Homo sapiens: one gene and its partners. The protein of the gene in region 1 purifies or fractionates together with the protein of each later gene. This does not show direct contact. Each region holds a gene or a part of one and is shown in the gene's direction. Other genes may lie near its edges.

The links. Proteins that work in one complex are often made in the same cells at the same time.
Region 2: the proteins of ZNF292 (region 1) and ADNP2 purify together in Homo sapiens (affinity purification with mass spectrometry, with the first as the bait; one large-scale study listed by BioGRID). This does not show direct contact.
Region 3: the proteins of ZNF292 (region 1) and ZSWIM9 purify together in Homo sapiens (affinity purification with mass spectrometry, with the first as the bait; one large-scale study listed by BioGRID). This does not show direct contact.
Region 4: the proteins of ZNF292 (region 1) and SCAI purify together in Homo sapiens (affinity purification with mass spectrometry, with the first as the bait; one large-scale study listed by BioGRID). This does not show direct contact.

The regions. Positions count from the first base shown.
Region 1 is NC_000006.12:87,256,044-87,261,088, forward strand, and holds part of ZNF292 (zinc finger protein 292), read left to right. Parts: coding exon 1-5,045. UniProt on the Homo sapiens protein: May be involved in transcriptional regulation.
Region 2 is NC_000018.10:80,111,802-80,116,846, forward strand, and holds part of ADNP2 (activity-dependent neuroprotector homeobox protein 2), read left to right. Parts: intron 1-5,045. UniProt on the Homo sapiens protein: May be involved in transcriptional regulation. May play a role in neuronal function; perhaps involved in protection of brain tissues from oxidative stress. May be involved in erythroid differentiation.
Region 3 is NC_000019.10:48,183,720-48,188,764, forward strand, and holds part of ZSWIM9 (uncharacterized protein ZSWIM9), read left to right. Parts: intron 1-5,045.
Region 4 is NC_000009.12:125,135,944-125,140,988, reverse strand, and holds part of SCAI (protein SCAI), read left to right. Parts: intron 1-5,045. UniProt on the Homo sapiens protein: Tumor suppressor which functions to suppress MRTFA-induced SRF transcriptional activity. May function in the RHOA-DIAPH1 signal transduction pathway and regulate cell migration through transcriptional regulation of ITGB1.

The DNA.
Region 1 (5,045 bases):
TACGTACACTTGTAAGTTCACAGGTTGTGGTAAAGTTTATCGTTCTCAGGGTGAGCTGGAAAAGCATCTGGATGATCACAGTACTCCTCCTGAAAAAGTGCTGCCTCCTGAAGCCCAACTTAATTCATCTGGAGATTCCATTCAGCCTTCTGAAGTGAATCAGAACACAGCAGAGAATATTGAGAAAGAAAGATCTATGCTTCCTTCAGAAAATAACATTGAAAACAGCTTACTAGCAGATAGAAGTGATGCTTGGGATAAAAGCAAAGCAGAATCAGCTGTGACCAAACAAGACCAGATTTCTGCCTCTGAGCTCAGGCAAGCTAATGGACCATTGTCAAATGGTTTGGAAAACCCTGCTACTACTCCTCTACTTCAATCCAGTGAAGTAGCTGTGTCCATTAAGGTGTCTCTCAATCAGGGGATTGAGGATAACTTTGGAAAGCAAGAAAACTCAACTGTGGAAGGCAGTGGTGAAGCACTGGTCACAGACTTACATACGCCAGTTGAAGATACTTGTAATGATTTGTGTCATCCAGGTTTCCAGGAGAGAAAAGAACAAGATTGCTTTAATGATGCCCATGTTACTCAGAATTCTTTAGTAAATTCAGAAACTCTCAAAATAGGTGACCTTACCCCACAAAACTTAGAAAGACAAGTGAACAACTTGATGACCTTTTCTGTGCAAAATCAGGCAGCATTTCAAAACAATTTACCAACTTCCAAATTTGAATGTGGAGATAATGTTAAAACATCATCCAATCTTTATAATTTACCTCTTAAGACATTAGAAAGTATTGCATTTGTTCCACCGCAGTCCGACCTAAGTAATTCATTAGGAACTCCATCAGTGCCTCCAAAAGCTCCAGTTCAGAAATTCAGCTGCCAGGTCGAGGGATGTACTCGAACCTATAATTCTTCACAGAGTATTGGGAAACACATGAAGACAGCACACCCTGACCAATATGCTGCATTTAAAATGCAGCGCAAAAGTAAAAAAGGTCAGAAAGCTAACAACTTAAATACACCAAATAATGGAAAGTTTGTTTATTTTTTGCCATCACCGGTGAACAGCTCAAATCCATTTTTTACATCACAGACCAAAGCCAATGGGAATCCTGCTTGTTCGGCCCAGTTGCAGCATGTCTCGCCACCCATTTTTCCAGCTCATTTAGCAAGTGTGTCAACTCCATTGTTGTCCTCAATGGAAAGTGTCATAAATCCAAATATAACTTCTCAGGATAAAAATGAACAAGGTGGTATGTTATGTTCCCAAATGGAAAATTTACCTAGTACTGCCTTGCCAGCACAAATGGAAGATCTAACCAAAACAGTTCTGCCTTTGAATATTGACAGTGGCTCAGATCCTTTCCTTCCTTTACCTGCAGAAAGTAGTTCAATGTCTCTCTTCCCTTCACCAGCAGATAGTGGGACTAATTCTGTTTTTTCCCAACTGGAAAATAATACAAATCATTATTCCTCACAGATTGAAGGAAACACTAATTCCTCCTTTCTAAAGGGGGGTAATGGTGAAAATGCAGTTTTTCCTTCACAAGTGAATGTTGCAAATAACTTCAGTAGCACCAATGCCCAACAGTCTGCACCTGAAAAAGTTAAAAAAGACCGTGGGCGGGGCCCAAATGGGAAGGAAAGAAAACCTAAGCACAACAAAAGGGCTAAATGGCCTGCAATTATCAGAGATGGGAAATTTATCTGTAGCAGGTGTTACAGGGCTTTTACTAATCCCAGATCACTGGGTGGGCACTTATCCAAGCGATCTTACTGTAAACCACTGGATGGAGCCGAAATTGCTCAAGAACTTCTACAGAGTAATGGACAGCCTTCTCTTCTTGCCAGCATGATTCTCTCCACAAATGCAGTAAATTTGCAGCAGCCACAACAATCTACCTTCAATCCAGAAGCATGTTTTAAAGATCCATCATTTCTACAGCTTCTTGCTGAAAATCGCTCGCCAGCATTTTTACCAAATACATTTCCTCGATCTGGTGTGACTAACTTTAATACCAGTGTCAGTCAAGAAGGTAGTGAAATTATTAAACAGGCTTTGGAAACTGCTGGCATTCCCAGTACATTTGAGGGTGCCGAAATGCTTTCTCATGTTTCAACAGGTTGTGTCTCTGATGCATCACAAGTAAATGCAACGGTGATGCCAAATCCAACTGTACCACCCCTGTTGCACACTGTATGCCATCCAAACACCTTGCTGACCAACCAGAATAGGACGTCAAACTCCAAAACTTCCTCCATTGAGGAATGTAGCAGCTTGCCTGTTTTTCCAACGAATGACTTACTACTGAAGACTGTTGAAAATGGTTTGTGCTCTAGTTCATTTCCTAATTCTGGTGGGCCATCACAAAATTTTACCAGTAACAGTTCTCGTGTTTCTGTTATAAGTGGTCCTCAGAACACAAGATCCAGTCATTTAAATAAAAAGGGAAACAGTGCTTCTAAGAGAAGAAAGAAAGTTGCTCCTCCACTAATTGCACCTAACGCTTCCCAAAACTTGGTAACAAGTGACTTAACAACAATGGGACTCATAGCAAAGAGTGTTGAAATCCCAACTACTAACCTTCATTCAAATGTAATTCCAACTTGTGAACCTCAGAGTTTGGTGGAAAATCTAACACAGAAATTAAATAATGTTAACAATCAGTTATTTATGACTGATGTAAAAGAGAATTTCAAAACCAGTCTTGAGTCCCATACAGTGTTAGCCCCTTTAACATTAAAAACTGAAAATGGTGATTCCCAAATGATGGCTTTGAATTCATGCACAACTTCAATAAATTCTGATTTGCAGATTTCTGAAGACAATGTTATACAAAACTTTGAAAAGACTCTTGAAATTATTAAAACTGCTATGAATTCTCAAATACTTGAGGTAAAAAGTGGATCTCAGGGTGCTGGTGAAACTTCACAAAATGCTCAAATAAATTATAACATTCAGCTTCCTTCAGTAAACACTGTGCAAAATAACAAATTACCCGATTCTTCTCCGTTTTCCTCCTTTATAAGTGTCATGCCAACAAAAAGTAACATTCCTCAGTCTGAAGTATCACATAAGGAGGATCAAATACAGGAAATTTTAGAAGGCTTACAGAAATTAAAATTAGAAAATGACCTATCCACTCCAGCATCCCAATGTGTACTGATAAATACATCAGTGACACTGACTCCCACGCCTGTTAAATCAACTGCAGATATCACAGTTATTCAGCCAGTTTCTGAAATGATAAACATTCAATTTAATGACAAAGTTAATAAACCCTTTGTGTGTCAAAACCAAGGCTGTAACTACAGTGCTATGACAAAGGATGCACTATTTAAGCACTATGGTAAAATTCATCAATACACTCCAGAAATGATTCTTGAAATTAAGAAGAATCAATTGAAATTTGCTCCCTTTAAATGTGTAGTACCTACATGTACAAAAACATTTACAAGAAATTCTAACCTCCGGGCACACTGTCAGTTGGTGCATCATTTTACAACTGAAGAAATGGTAAAGTTAAAAATTAAAAGGCCTTATGGAAGAAAATCTCAGAGTGAAAATGTGCCGGCCTCACGAAGTACACAAGTGAAAAAACAGCTAGCTATGACAGAGGAAAATAAAAAGGAATCTCAGCCTGCTTTAGAATTGAGAGCAGAGACCCAAAATACCCACAGTAATGTAGCAGTGATCCCAGAAAAACAACTTGTAGAAAAAAAAAGTCCTGACAAAACAGAAAGTTCTTTACAAGTGATTACAGTTACTTCAGAACAATGTAATACAAATGCACTCACAAACACACAAACCAAAGGACGGAAGATTAGGAGGCATAAAAAAGAAAAGGAGGAGAAAAAACGAAAGAAGCCAGTTTCCCAATCCCTTGAGTTTCCAACAAGATACAGTCCTTACAGACCTTATCGATGTGTTCACCAGGGATGCTTTGCTGCCTTTACGATACAGCAAAACTTGATTCTCCATTACCAGGCTGTACACAAATCAGATCTACCTGCATTTTCAGCAGAGGTCGAAGAGGAAAGTGAAGCTGGTAAAGAAAGTGAAGAAACTGAAACTAAACAAACTTTGAAAGAATTTCGATGTCAGGTAAGTGACTGTTCTCGAATTTTCCAAGCAATTACTGGCCTAATACAACACTACATGAAACTTCATGAAATGACTCCTGAAGAAATTGAAAGTATGACTGCTTCAGTGGATGTTGGGAAGTTTCCATGTGACCAGTTAGAGTGTAAATCTTCATTTACTACATATTTGAACTATGTTGTTCATCTAGAGGCAGACCACGGGATTGGACTAAGGGCAAGTAAAACAGAAGAAGATGGTGTATACAAATGTGATTGTGAAGGCTGTGACCGTATATATGCAACCCGGTCGAATCTCCTCCGACACATTTTTAATAAGCATAATGACAAACATAAGGCTCATTTGATTCGTCCAAGAAGATTAACACCAGGCCAGGAAAATATGTCAAGCAAGGCAAACCAAGAAAAATCAAAGTCTAAACATCGGGGGACCAAGCACAGCAGATGTGGAAAGGAAGGAATAAAAATGCCCAAGACCAAACGAAAGAAAAAAAATAATTTAGAAAACAAGAATGCAAAGATTGTGCAGATTGAAGAAAATAAGCCTTATTCTCTGAAACGTGGGAAGCATGTATATTCTATAAAGGCTAGAAATGATGCCCTGTCTGAGTGTACAAGCAGATTTGTAACCCAGTATCCATGTATGATAAAGGGATGTACTTCAGTTGTTACAAGTGAAAGCAATATAATTAGACATTATAAGTGCCATAAATTATCTAAGGCATTTACATCACAACACCGAAATCTTCTTATTGTATTCAAACGGTGTTGCAACTCACAAGTAAAGGAAACGTCTGAGCAAGAAGGTGCTAAGAATGATGTGAAAGATTCTGACACGTGTGTATCAGAGAGCAATGATAATTCAAGAACAACAGCTACAGTTTCACAAAAGGAAGTTGAAAAAAATGAAAAAGATGAAATGGATGAACTAACAGAAT
Region 2 (5,045 bases), on another chromosome or scaffold:
TCCAAAGTGCTGGGATTACAGGTGTGAGCCGTTGCACCCGGCCAACATTTTCTTTTAGAATGTATTTTTTTTTCTATAATAGAATATCCTTACGAGATCATTATACTAAAAAATCCCCAGAGAAGTCCTTTATGTACCCTTTTGGGAAATAATATTTTCTTGTGCATATCAGTGGAATTTTATGGTAGTTCCATGCCTACCCTAAACATTAGGAATTGAGATTTATTTTGAATTGAAATTGATAGGTTGGTGCATGATGTGGAAATAGTTGGCCGCCCCGGTTAGCCTGCTGTTTTCTAATGGTGAAAATACAGATTTTACTGAGCTCTAAGATTCTATGGAGAACAGTATCTATAGAGGATCTATAAATATGAAAACATTGAACTATTTCATAGTTAATTCATCCACTGGGCATTTTACATGGAATATTTTATCTTAGGATTGATAAATTATGCTATAAGAATGGATCTAAGAATGAATAAATTGTGGTAGCTTAGAATGGATAAATTATGGGTAAAAGTCAGCTTCCCATCCCCAAAGTGGTTGGCAACAGTTATGAAACCTGTAATTTACTTGCATTTTATTTTTTATCCTTTGTTGGTTTCCCTAAAGCAGTTAGGAAACTGCTAAACAAAAAAAAAAAGGAGGGGGGAACTTTTCCCCCTCCTTTTTTTAAATGAAAAGGTATTTGTGTGCTTGTGTTTTGTTTTGTTTAGAAGGGCCACAATAACGATGAAGGAATGGAAGCACTTTCATTTGAGAATAAAAAGTTCCTATTTTTCAAATTCAAGGGAAAAAAATAAAAAAGTGACAACTCCTTGGCCCTAGTCCCAAGCCTTGAACAAGTAACCACAGACCCCTGCCCAATCTCTGAGAGCCTCATTTTAGTAACCCCTTTCTGAGGTTCATGTATGTACAACCATGCTTACATGAATCAGCCAATCCCCAATCACTCTGCTTTTAAAAGTCCACCAGTCTTTGTATCCCAGGCTTCTCAAAACTCTGTGATAAGATCAGCTCTGGCTGTGTGAGTTGAGATTTTCTTGGAAGCAGTAAATTTAGCTTCCCTGTTTCAGATACATATGGATGATGGTCCCTACTTTAGACAACACTGTTTGTCAGCCAGCTTTTGGAGAAGAACCCCAGAGGATAGAGAGGATAGTGGAACTTTAAGGAGGAAATGAAATCAAGTCTGATAGAGTCCCTGGAAAGCAGCTAACAAAATTTTCGTTGAGTTTTGCTCTGACCAAAGAAGCTGGACTGGGCCAGAAAGTGACCTTGAGCTTAGTGTTTAGAAATGCATAATGAGGTTATGGCAGCTCTTGTGTGAGAGTGTAAGCTTTTGAAGGCTAGAACCCAAATCAGTGCATTTTATTAAAGAAAATTTTTAAACTTAAAATTTTATAAAGAAAATTTTTAAATTTTTATCCTCCCAGTTCTACAATGCTAATGATCCTTAAATCTCTCCTTTTGCTGAGACCAGGATACATTTTTCACATAGATAACTTTGAAAAGAAATTTATCCGCTTCAAAACAGCTTCTCAAAAACTTGGTGTTTGCTTGTTACCCACCAAAAATTTCTCCCTATTATATGTTAACCCTTTCTGCCTCCCACTCCTCTCCCAGTTTGATTCCAGTCCACCTTTTTGGTTTTACTTTTGCCAAATAAATTCAGACTTTTCCTTCTTTACCTCAATAATTTTTTGATGCTAATTTATTCACCTTGTATGTCTTGGGCACCAGCTTTCCATAGCCATGTCCTCTTTAGAACCTCCTAGCACTTTCTGCATATCTTACGGTTCTTATCCTGTTTTATTTTATATCTTTTGTTCATTTAATGAACATTTGCTACGTACTGTGCTCTGTGATGGGACCCTCTCAAGCAAATATAACATGATTTCTGCCCTGGAGTAGTTCAGCCCAATAGGAGAAATGGATATATAAGTAGATAATTGCAACATGGTGAGTCGAGTGCAGTGGAGTGGTATGTGGTTATGGTACTAAGTCCTAGGAGGGATCACTAAGCCTGTCCTTGGGTGGTGGATACAAGAGAGGAATGTAGAAGTAGAATTGCTTACTCAGAAATTGTCCTTAAAAATCATGAGAGAGCTGGGCATGGTGGTTCATGCCTGTAATCCCCGTACTTTGAGAGGCTGACGGGGAGGATTGCTTGAGCTCAGGAGTTCAAGACCAGCCTGGGTAACATAGGGAGACCCTGTCTCTACCAAAAAATAAAAAAAAGTTAGCCAGGTGTGGTGGCATACATCGGTAGTCCAAGCTACTCATGAGGTTGAGGCAGGAGGATTGCTTGAGGTTGGGAGGTTGAGGCTGCAGTGAGCTGTAATCAAGCCACTATACTCCAGCCTGGGTGAAGGAGCAAGACCCTGTCTCAAAAAAAAAAAAAGAAAAAAAAGATCTTGAGAGGTATTGCCAAATTACCCTGTAAAAGCATAAAAATTAAAATTTTTCTACTTTTACTACCACCAGATGTTAGTAATCTTAATAGTTACTGTTTTGATAATAAAAATTTGACATTTTAAATGGCATTTCTTTATTATTAAAGTTGAATAACCAAATATTTGCCACTTGAGTTTGACTGATATATATTTTAGCTTTTATAGCCTACACATTTAAATTTTGGAATAGTTGGCAGATTTTTAGGAAAGTTACAAGTATAGTACAAATAACTTTTTTCCCTGAATCACTTGAGAATAAGTTGCCAAAAAAGTTGCCACATTACCCTAAATACTACAAACAAGAACATTCTCCTACATATCCATAACAAAACCATCAAAATCAGGAAATCACTACATTCGAGCGGGTTATAGTCTATATAACTATATAGATTATCACTGTATACCAAACCACCCCAAACTTACTGGAGTAAGACATTTTATTTAAGAAGCGCATCAGTTCTCTGGGTCAGTTCTATTCAGACAGGGAAGGGAGATGGTTTGTTTCTGGTCCACAGTGTCTGGGCCTCATCTGGGAAGACTCAAAGGCAGGGGGTGACTTGACAGCTAGGGCTGGAATCCTCAAGAGGCATCTTCACTCCCATGCTGGTAGTTGATGTGGAACACCTCTACCTGGTGTCTCTGTGGGCTAGTTGGCACTTTCTACACATGTGGTATCTAGATTCTGGGCATGATCATCCTGAGAGAGGTATGTGGCATTTTTATGATCTAGTCTTGGAATTCTCATGGCATTATTTCCTCCATACTTGATTGGTCAAGGCAGCCACAAAGTTCTGCCCAAAGGTCAGGAGGGGGCATTAGATGCTGCCACTTTTGGGAGGAGTGTTAGGGCCGTATTGTAAGAGCATGTGGGTTGGAAGGTATTGTGTGTTTGGAAAATTCACTTTGCCACAGGTTGTATCTGTTACTTGATATATGCCCACATTGTCTCGTATCTGGCCTATGGGAGCCCTTTCAAGCTGGTTACTTCTGTGTTCTGTTGACATGCCTCATTGAGCAACTGCTTTATATTCCGGCACAGGATGTTCTAGGCTCATCTTGTCTTTACCATGCTCCAGCCATTTTTCCTAGGGTTCTTTTTAAAGGAAAGCGGTATTTAGGAATTCAGGTTTGAGCCCTAGTTGTGCCCACTGCTACTGGGGTGTATAACTGCATCCAGGCACTCTCAGTGGGCAGAGCTATGGAATGTATGTGTGTATGTGGACACACACTCTCAAACTATCTCTATTCTTCTATCTGTGTGTTGAAAACAATGAGTTCACTTCAGTAACCCCTAGTCTGGTCAAGTACTACAGGGTTTATTTTAATTTTGTGCCTTTTTAGATATTGTTTTAAACAGCTTGAGATATAATTTATGTACCATACAATTCACCAGTTTGAAGTGTACAGTGAATGGCTGTGGGCTCATTCACATTGCGTATACATCACCACAGTTGAGTTCAGAACGAAGAAGCCCTGCTTCCATCACTTCCCAGTTCTCCCAGCCCTGGCAGCCACTGTTGTGCTTTTTTTTTCTGGGGACGGAGTTTTGCTCTTACTGGTCAGGGTGGAGTGCAGTGGCGCGACCTCGGCTCACTGCAACCTCTGTCTCCCAGGGTCAAGCAATTCTCTTGCCTCAGCCTCCCGAGTAGCCGAGATTACAGGTGCCCAGCTAATTTTTTGTATTTTTAGTAGAGATGGGGCTTCACCATATTGGCCAGGCTGGTCTTGAACTCCTGACCTCAGGTGATCCACCCACCTTGGCCTCCCAAAGTGCTGGGATTACAGGTGTGAGCCACTGCACTCGGCCCACTGTTGTGCTTTCTATGGATTTGCCTGTTCTGGACACTTCACATAAATAGAATCATACAATATGTGGTCCTTGTGTCTGGCTTCTTTTACTTAGCATATTTCCAAAGTTTGTCCATATTGTAGCATGTATGTATTTCATTTCTTTTATGGCCAAATAATCTATTGTATGGATATGTCATATTTTATTTATCCAGTCATCAGTTTATTTATCAAATGCCCCAATGCAGGGGCATTTGGTTTGTTTACACATTTTGGTGACTGAATAGTGTTGTCATGAACATCCTTATATAAGTTTTTGGGTGGATGTATGCTTTTCTCTTGAGTGGAATTGCTGGTTCATATGTTACCTATATTTTTAATCTTTTGTGGGACAGCCAGACTGTTTTCAGGCACACATGAAGACTGGCTGCACTGGTATACATTACTATTAGGAATGTATGAGAGTTCCAATTTCTCCACGTCCTTGCCAACACGTTTCCTTTTTTTTTTCTTTATAGATATCCTGGTGGGCACAGTATCTCTTTGTGGTTTTAATTTGCATTTCTCCAAATGGCTAATGATGTTGAGCATTTTTTTTTGTTTTGTTTTAAGATAGGGTCTCACTCTGTTGCTCAGGCTGGAATATAGTGGCGTGATCAGACTCACTGCAGCCTTGACCTCCTGGGCTCGGGTGATCCCCTCACCTCAGCCTCCTGGATAGCTGGGACTACAGGTGCGCACCAGGATGCCTGGCTAATTTTTGTATTTTTTGTAGAGGCAGGGTTTCACCATGTTGCCCTG
Region 3 (5,045 bases), on another chromosome or scaffold:
TCGATGTCCCAGGCTCAAGCAATCCTCCCACCTCATTCTCCCGAGCAGCTGGGACAACAGGCGTGCACCACCACACCCAGCTAATTTTTTAGTTTTTGTAGAGATGTTTGGCGGGGGGGGGTCTCCCTATGTTGCCCAGGCTAGTCTTGAACTCCCAGACTGAAGCAGTCCTGCTTCGGCCTCCCAAAGTGCTGGGATTACAGGCATGAGCCACCACGCCAGGCCTACTTAAATTTTTTTTTTTTTAATTGAACTGCACAAACAGAAAATGCACAAATGATAAATACTTAGTTTGATGAATGTTCTCAAGGGGAGAACACACCTGAACCCACCATGCAGATGGAGAATTAGGAGAAGGAAGAGTGCTATGTCCTGTAATGTGATGGAGCGATAAGTTATCATCAAGGAGAAAAAGGCCGGGGCCTGGAGCGGGACAGTTCTAAGGGTGCTGTTTGAATTGGTCAGGGAAGGTCTCTTTAGCAAATGATGGTGAAGCAGAGGAGATGGAACAGAGGCAAGGGACCCTCATTCTGTCATCAGAGGGAAGAGAATTCTAGGCAGAAGGAACAGCCAGTGCAAAGGCCCAGAGGCACGAGCAAGCTTGTGTTGGAGGAACAGTGAGGATGGCTGCTGCTCCATAAGGAATCTCTGCGGCTTTAATCCAACTTCAAGTTTGGGGTGAACTTGAAGTTTAAAGAGGAAAGAAAGATGAGAAAGTAGGGGAAGAACTGGTTTCTCCTCCTGGCTGTGCCTTTGTCTCCCTTGTGTGTGGAAGAGGTCCCAAGGCAGGGTAAAGTCGAGATTCAGCTCTGGCACACTCTTCCTGTCTTCATCTCATGCCCAGTAAGAAGCCCTGATTCAAGCCACCAGCCCAAGCCCAGGCCTCTGTCCCGACATAATAATAATTTTAGCTAATGTTTATCAAGCACTTACTATATGCCAGGCACTACCCTAAGTGCTTTACATACTATAACTCATTTTCATCTCACCTGAGCCCTATGAGGAAATAGTCCACCATTCTCATCCCCATTTTACAGACAAGGAAACTGAAGCACAGAGAAGTCAAGTAACTGGCTCAAAGTCACACAGCTATTTAGTGACAGAGCTGGGCTTCGGACCCACACAGCCTGGATCCAGACCCATGACCTTCACCATGGGGACAAACACACATGCACTTCCTACTCCACTGGTCTTTGCTGATCTAGTAACTCTCCTCCACTACCCACCATGACATAAATAAGCCTCAGCTGTTCTTCCCTGAACCCACCCTCTGCAGGATTGTCCCTGTGCAGAACAGCTCATTCATAGATCAGAGCCTTCCCTGGAAGGGGAGTTGTCTTTTCATTTTGAAGGCTGTCTTGGAATCTCGGCTAAACCACGGTTGGCTCCTGCGTCTGTGTTTTGACCTGCTTTCATACTTTTTTTTTTTTTTTTTTTGAGACGGAGTTTCGCTCTTGTCACCCAGGCTGGAGTGCAATGGCGGAATCTTGGCTCACCGCAACCTCCGCCTCCCGGGTTCAAACGATTCTCCTGCCTCAGCCTCCTGAGTAGCTGGGATTACAGGCATGCGCCACCATGCTAATTTTTGTGTTTTTAGAAGAGACGGGGTTTCTCCATGTTGGTCAGGCTGGTCTTGAACTCCTGACCTCAGGTGATCCCCCCGCCTTGGCCTCCCAAAGTGCTGGGATTACAGGCATGAGCCACCGTGCCCAGCCCCTTAATGCTCTTGAAAGAAAGGAGGAAGAAGTTCTAGGACAGGAGAGACAGATTAGTGAAGCAACATTTAAATATTTACTTTTTGAATATGTCATACATTCACATGGTTCTAAAAAAGGTATGTGGTGAAAAGTCTTATCACATCCTGTCCCCCAGGTCCCCTCCCCTGCAGAGTTATTAGCAGCTTATAAATCATATCTCGCTTTCTATCCTATGGACCAGCACTGCCCGGTGGAACTTTCTACAATGATAGAAATGTTCCTTATCCAGGCTAGGCATGGTTACTCACACCTGTAATCCCAGCACTTTGGGACTCTGAGGCAGATGGATCACCTGATGGCAGGAGTTCGAGACCAGCATGGCCAACATGGCAAAACCTGATCTCTACTAAAAATTCAAAATTAGCCAGGCATGGTGGCAGGTGCCTGTAATCTCAGCTACTCGGGAGGCTGAGGCACAAGAATCGCTTGAACCCAGGAGGCAGAGGTTGCAGTGAGCTGAGATTATGCCACTGTACTCTGGCCTAGGTAACAGAGTGACACTCTTGTCTAAAAAAATAAAAAGAAAGAAAATGGTTCTTATCTGTACTGTCCAATCCAGAGGCCACTGGCCACACATGGCTACAGAATGCTTAATGAGGCCAGTATGACTGAGGAACTGAATTTGTCATTTAATTTATCGAAATGTAAACAACCTAATGTAGCTAGTGGCTTCTGGATTGGACAGCGCAGCTCTGCACATATACAGGTCAATTTGCATGTCTGTATGTTTAACTTTAATTTTTAACTTTATTTCCTCTTTCTGCCCCGCCACCCCCCACCCCCAGCAAGCAGGGCAGCCTAGTGTACACGCTGTTTTTGTTTGTTTGTTTGTTTGTTCTTTGAGACAGGGTTTCACTCCTGTCACCCAGGCTGGAGTGCAGTGGCACGCTGTTGGCTCACTATAACCTCCACCTCCTGGGCTCAAGTGATTCTCCTGCCTCAGCCTCCTGAGTAACTGGGACTATAGGCATGCACCACCATGCCTGGCTAATTTTTGTATTTTTAGTAGAGACGAGGTTTCACCATGTTGGCCAAGCTGGTCTCAAACTCCTGACCTCAAGTGATCCACTCACCTTGGCCTCCTGAAGTGCTGGGATTACAGGTCGGGGCCACCACACCCGGCCTGTACATGCTGTTTTGCATCTTGCTTTATACGTTGGGGAGTGCCAGATGTCACCATCTTTCGTTCTTCCTCTGGGGCTGGTCAAATCCCCCTGAGAAAACTCCTCTGGCCTCCTGGCGGGGGGTGAAGGCCAGGCTGCCAGGGCCAGGCTGCCAGCTTCTGGGAGCTGCAGGGGCAGAGGCAGGGAGCTGTCAGGCATTCAGCCAGCAAGACGCACTCAGTACCCACTTGGGGTTCAGAATCCCCCTCCCTCATCTTCAGATGGGCCAGATGTCCCCAAAGCCAGCGGCCCCTTTCTGTTTCACCCTGTCTACAGAATAAACCCCCAGTCACTGGGGGTGGGGGAAGAGTAAGGGGAGAGGGGAAACGAGATTTGGAGGTCTAGCTGCTGCTGAAACAGCCCTCAGTTCGTCTTTATTTTGCCTTCTGCAAAACTGGCCTGGTGTTGCCAGCTCCTTTTGAGGACTTTGCTACCGGTTCTCAGCATCCCTCAATTGCTGGCTTAGGATTCATGGGTTTTTAGGGGTGGGGTGGGATTAGCATGTCCAGCTGCTTTCCAGTTTCCAAAGTTCTGTCCCTATCATATTGCCTCTGATTTAAAAAAAAAAAAAAGCCATTTTAAAAAAAAGATGTAATTGAGGTTCAAGAGAGAGTGAAACTAGAGAGGTGTTCAATCCATCACTTTTACACAGAAATTTCACCTTTTTTTCACTTATAAAATCTAATGAAAGAGTTCTATATTATTATGTTAATAATACAGTAGTAATATAACAGTATAATGTAATAATTAATATATTATATTAATTATATATTATAATTATATATTATATTATATTATATATATTATATATTATATATTAATTATATATATTATATATATTATATATTATATTATAATATATTATATTATATTATATATATTATATATTATATTATTATTATATTATATTATATATATTATATATAATATTATATATATTATATATTATATAATATAATATTATATATTATATTAATATTATAATATGTAACGCATAACATGTAATATTGATAATATAATAGGTGCGATGGCTCACACCTGTAATCTCAGCACTTTGGGAGGCCGAAGCGAGAGGATCACTTGAGCCCAGGAGTTCAAGACCAGCCTGGCCAACATAACGAGCACCTGTCTCTACAAAAAATTAAAAAAAAAAAAATTAGGCATGGTGGCATGCATCTGTAGTCCCAGCTACTCAAGAGGCTGAGGCACGAGGGTTGCTTGAGCCCAGGAGCTTCAGGCTGCAGTAAGCTATGATCACACCACTGTACTCCAGCCTTGACAACAGAGTGAGACCCTTTAAATAGATAGATAGATAGATAGATAGATAGATAGATAGATAGATAGATAGACAGACAGACAGCAAGCTTTAAATTTTCATCCCAAGCCTAGGTCAAGCAACAATCAGTCTTTCCACTTCCCAGCAGTCTTCCAAAGGAAGGATTATTTGTAAAAAGTGCCTGCACTTCCTGAGTTGGGTTGCTCTCTTGATCTTTGGAGGGGATCAGACAAGAAGGATGCGCCCAAAGCCACAAGGCATGATTTAAGGGCAAGACTGGGGGGCGACTTCACCCAGGGAGGTGTTAATACCTTTTTTTTTTTTTGAGATGGAGTCTCGCTCTGTCTCCCAGGCTGGAGTGCAGTGGCGCAATCTTGGCTCAGCACGACCTCCATCTCCCAGGTTCAGGTGATTCTTGTGCCTCAGCCTCTTGAGTAGCTGGGACTACAGGCGTGCGCCACCAGGCCTGGCTAATTTTGTGTGTGTGTGTTTTAGTAGAGATGGGGTTTCATCATGTTGGCCAGAATGGTCTCGATCTCCTGGCCTGGTGATCTGCCTGCCTCGGCCTCCCAAAGTGCTGGGATTACAGGCGTGAGCCACCGCACCCAACCTTTAACACCTTTTATCACCTGCCCTGCCTGATGATGATGGGCTTTGGGGTCCAGTCACATCTCCATTCCCTCACTTGTGGCAGGCACCAGGGTAACCAGCAAGCAAGCCCTGAAAAGAGAGACCTTGCCCGGAAACGTTGCAGCGTTCTCTTACGTGTATGCTTTGCCTTCTGAGAATGGCGAGCATTGATGCAAGTGTATCCCTTTTAAGAATACTCAATGGGGCCAGGCGTGATGG
Region 4 (5,045 bases), on another chromosome or scaffold:
ATAAAATACATGCTAGATTTCAAGTTAGTACAAAAATTGAATAAATAAAATTTCTCAGTAACTTTTTATATTGATGACATAGTGAGACAATATTTTAGGTATATTGGAGTAAATACTTTTTTTTTTTTTTGAGACAGGGTCTGGCTCTGTCATCCAGGCTGTAGTGCAGTGGTGCAATCTCAGCATACTGCAACCTCCACCTCCTGGGCTCAAGCCACCCAGCCAATTCAGCCTCTGGAGTAGCTGGGACTACAAGCGCCTGACACCTCACCCAGCTCTTTTTTTTTTTTTTTTTTTTGTAGAGACAAGGTTTGGCCATGTTGCCCAGGCTGGTCTCAAACTCCTGGGCTCAAATGATCCAACCACCTTGGCCTACTAAAGTGCTGTGATTACAAGTGTGAGCTGCCATGCCTGGCTGTAAATAAAATTGTTACTAAAATTATTTTCACTTACTTTTTCCTGAGACAAAGTCTTACTTTGTTGCCCGTACTGGAGTGCAGTGATGTGATCTTGACTCACTGCAATCTCCGCCTCCTGGGTTCAAGCAATTCTCTTTCCTCAGCCTCCCGATTAGCTGGGATTACAGGCGCCTGCCACCATGCCCGGCTAATTTTTGTATTTTTAGTAGAGACGGGGTTTCAACATGTTGGCCAGGCTGGTCTTGAACTCCTGGCCTCAAGTGCTCTGTCTGACTAGGCCTCCCAAAGTGCTGGGATTACAGGTGTGAGCCACCGGGCCTGGCCTTCACTTACTTCTTTTTCCTTTTTATTTTTCTTCTGAGACAGGGCTTGGCTCTGTTGTCAAGGCTGAAGTGAAGTGGTGCAATCACAGCTCACTGCAGCCTCGACCTGGTAATCCTTCCACCTCAGCCTCCCAAGTACCTGGGACTACAGATGTGCACCACCATGCCAGGCTAACTTTTTATTTTTTGTAAGAGACAGGGTCTCACTGTGTTGCTCAGGCTGGTCTCCTGTGCTCAAGTGATGCGCCAGCCTTGGCCTCCCAAAGTGCTAGGATTACAGGCGTGAGCCACCATACCCAGCCTTTCTTTTTATTTTTTCTAATATGGCTACTAGAAAATTAAAAGCTGCATACATTTAACTTGCATTGTATTTCTTTGCATTGTATTTCTTTTGGATAGCTCTCATTTAACTCTCATTACCCCACTGCCAGACTCTTCAGTAGCCTTCTGACTGGTTTCCCTACCTTGAATCTGTAATTCCCTCCCTGTACTGTGCAAATCGATCTTGTAATTCTCATGCTTAGGATCCCTCTGTGCTTCCTCATTGCTTATTGAACATCATTCAGACTTTTAGCCTAATCATATAAAAAAATTGCCTTTATTTTACTTCTTCATACTTTCCCAGCCACGGTTAATACTTTGGCCATATCGATTTTCAATGATGGAACTATTAAATGTCTACTTTTAAATGATTTAACTTTCTGGTGAACCTTCAAGATGAATTAATTGCTGAATGTAACTCCGTGCTCCATTTGCCATTCCCAGAACTTATGTTCCCTCTTTGCTTTGGTTTTTTGTTTTTAGGGTTTTTGTTGTTTTTGTTGTTGTTGTTGTTGTTTTTTAAAGACGGTCTCACTTCAGGGTGGAGTGCAATGGTGTGACAATGGCTCACTGGAGCCTTGACTTCTCGGGCCCAGGTGATTTTCCCACCTCAGCCTCCCAAGTAGCTGGGACTACAGATGTGCATCACTATGCCCAGCTAATTTTTGCATTTTTTGTAGAGGTGGGGTTTTACCATGTTGCTCAGGCTGGTCGTGAACTCCTGGGCTTAAGCTATCTGCCTTCCTCAGACTCTCAAAGTGTTTGAATTATAGGCGTCAGCCACAGTACCTGGTCTGCTTTGGGTTTTTGTATGTGATTTCTTTTTCTTTCTGGAGTACTTTCTCCTTGCTCCTTGACAAGCCCCCTCCTTTAAGACTTTGCTCAGTGAGGGCTTCCCCCCACCCTCCCTCTGCTCCACCTTATTGGGTCCCATCATGGCCTGTACATACACTTACATGAAATGGTCTGGGCTGAATTTGAATTCAGCTCTGTCAAATGTAGTTTGCGAGATCATGTGCAAGTTAATAAGCCTGTCTCTGCCTCAGTTTCCTCATCTATATAGTAGAAATAATAGTTCTGCTGGCGTGGTGGCTCACGCCCGTAATCCCAGCACTTTGGGAGGTCAAGGTGGGCAGATCACCTGAGGTCGGGAGTTTGAGACCAGCCTGACCAACATGGAGAAACCCCATTTCTATTAAAAATACAAAATTGGGCCGGGCACGATGGCTCAATCCTGTAATCCCAGCACTTTGGGAGGCCAAGGCGGGCGGATCACAAGGTCAGGAGATCGAGACCATCCTGGCTAACACAGTGAAACCACGTCTCTACTAAAAACAAAAAAAATCAGCTGGACGTGGTGGCAGGTGCCTGTAGTCCCAGCTACTCAGGAGGCTGAGGCAGGAGAATGACGTGAACCCGGGAGGCAAAGCTTGCAGTGAGCTGAGCTCATACCACTGCACTCCAGCCTGGGCGACAGCGAGACTCCGCCTCAAAAAAAAAAAATTGGCTGGGCGTGGTAGCGCATGTCTGTAATCCCAGCTACTCGGGAGGCTGAGGCAGGAGAATCGCTTGGACCCAGGAAGTGGAGGTTGCAGTGAGCCGAGATTGCACCATTGCACTCCATCCTGGGCAACAAGAGCGAAACTCTGTCTCCAAAAAAAAAAAAAAAAAAAAAAGAAATAATAGTTCGACTTCCCCAAGGTTGTAAGGTGCCTAGGATAGTGCCTGGCACATAGAAGGTACACAATAAATTTTAGGTTAAAAAACACCCATCAAATATCTTTTATTTCCCACTTCTTTTCAAAATGAGAAGATTAAAAATAAAGGCCAAGAAGAAATGAAAGAAGCAGATAAAGCCAGTGGCAGAATTAGTGCATGGACCGGAAAGTCCTGCATCATTGCTAATGGTTGCTTTGGTGTTTGGCTCTGAGTTTTCTGGAGTAAAATGAAGAAGAAAATAAAGTTCAGTTTTCAGATTCATGGTATCTCTAAAATCAAACGTGAGTTTTTAAAGATTGCTTCTTGGCCAAGCGTGGTGGCTCACATCTGTAATCCCAGCACTTTGGGAGGCTGAGGCGGGTGGATCACCTGAGGTCAGGAGTTTGAGACCAGCCTGGCCAACATGACGAAACCCCATCTCTACTAAAAATACAAAAAATTAGCCGGGCATGGTGGCGCGTGCCTGTAATCACAGGTACTCAGGAGGCTGAGGCCAGAGAATCTCTTGAACCTGGGAGGTGGAGGTTGCGGTGAGCTGAGATTGCACCACTGCACTCCAGCCTGGGCAACAGAGTGAGACTCCGTCTTAAATAAATAAATAAAGATTGCTTCTTATACTTCTCAATCCAAGTGAGTTATTGCCAGTGAACAGTCTCCACGGGGCCAAAGCAATGTGGTTTTGGTATATGGCTCTCTGATGGTTTGGCTTGATTCAGAGGTAAAGAGGGATGCGTACACTGTGGGGACTATACGTGTTTTGTTCACTGTTTATCCCCAGCAGCTAGAATAGCATCTGGCACGTAGAGAACAGTTTATTGAATTTTTGAGTGAACAAATCCTTTAGTAATTCTCCAGGAATTTAAGTAAGCATCAGGTTGCAATGAGTTTATTTTCTCAGTCCAGAATCATGAGGCTACATATTCAGCATGCCTGATTTAGGTTAGATCCTGATCATGTCAGCATTTTGACCTGAATGGACAACCAGCACATGTATTTAAAGGTCCTATGGGCAGGACCAAGATTTTCCTCAGAAAACAGTGCAGGGGTTGCTCTAAAACTAGAAAACAAAATGTACAGTTAAGACCCCAAAGATGAATTATAGAATAAGGATGTAATGGTTGTAGCCAGATATTTAAAAAAATAGGTGTTAGGCCGGGCGCGGTGGCTCACACCTGTCATCCCAGCACTTTGGGAGGCCGAGGCGGGTGGATCACAAGGTCAGGAGTTCAAGACCAGCCTGACCAAGATGGTGAAACCCCATCTCTAAAAAATACAAAAATTAGTCAGGCACAATGGCGCATGCCTGTAATCCCAGTTACTTGCGAGGCTGAGGCAGGAGAATCACTTGAACCTGGGAGAAGGTTGCAGTGAGCCGAGATCGCTGCACTCTAGCCTGGGTGACAGAGCAAGACTTCGTCTCAAAAAAAAAAAAAAAAAGTGGTATTAGTTGCCGGGCATGCTGGCTCACACCTGTAATCCCAGCACTTTGGGAGGCCCAGGCTGGCAGATCACGAGGTCAGGAGTTTGAGACCAGTCTGGCCAATGTAGCGAAACCCCGTCTCTACTAAAAGTACAAAAATTAGCCGGGCGTGGTGGCAGGCAGCTGTAATCCTAGCTACTCAGGAGGCTGGGGCGGGAGAATCGCTTCAACCTGGGAGGCAGAGGTTGCAGTGAGCTGAGACCACGCCATTGCACTCCAGCCTGGGCGACAAAGCGAGACTCCATCTCAAAAAAAAAAAAAAAAAAAAAAGAAAGGTATTAGTATCAGTTTTATACTGTGGCTATAGAAATTCTGAATATCAAATGATATAAATTCCTGGTAAACACTTCAAGATGAATTAATTGAGGCAGATGAATGGTGTGAGCCCAGGAGTTCAAGACCAGTCTGGGCAACATGGTGAAACCTCATCTCTACCAAAAATACGAAAATTAGCCAGGTGTGGTGGTACACACCTGTAGTCCCAGCTAGTTGGGAGGCTGAGGTGGGAGGATCAGCTGAGACTGGGAGGTGGAGGCTGCAGTGAGCCATGATTGCACCACTGCACTCCAGCCTGGGCAACAGTGAAAACCTGTCTCAAAAAAAAAAAAAAAGGTAAGTTAATTGTTGAATGTAGCCTTGAGTAACTGATTGAACGGGTCTGCTATGTAGAGTTGTTGACAGTTATATTACATATGTAGTACATTTTAGAAAACAGTTGACAGAATTATGGTTTTTTTTTTGTTTTTTTTTTTTTTGTTTGAGATGGAGTTTTGCTTGTTGACC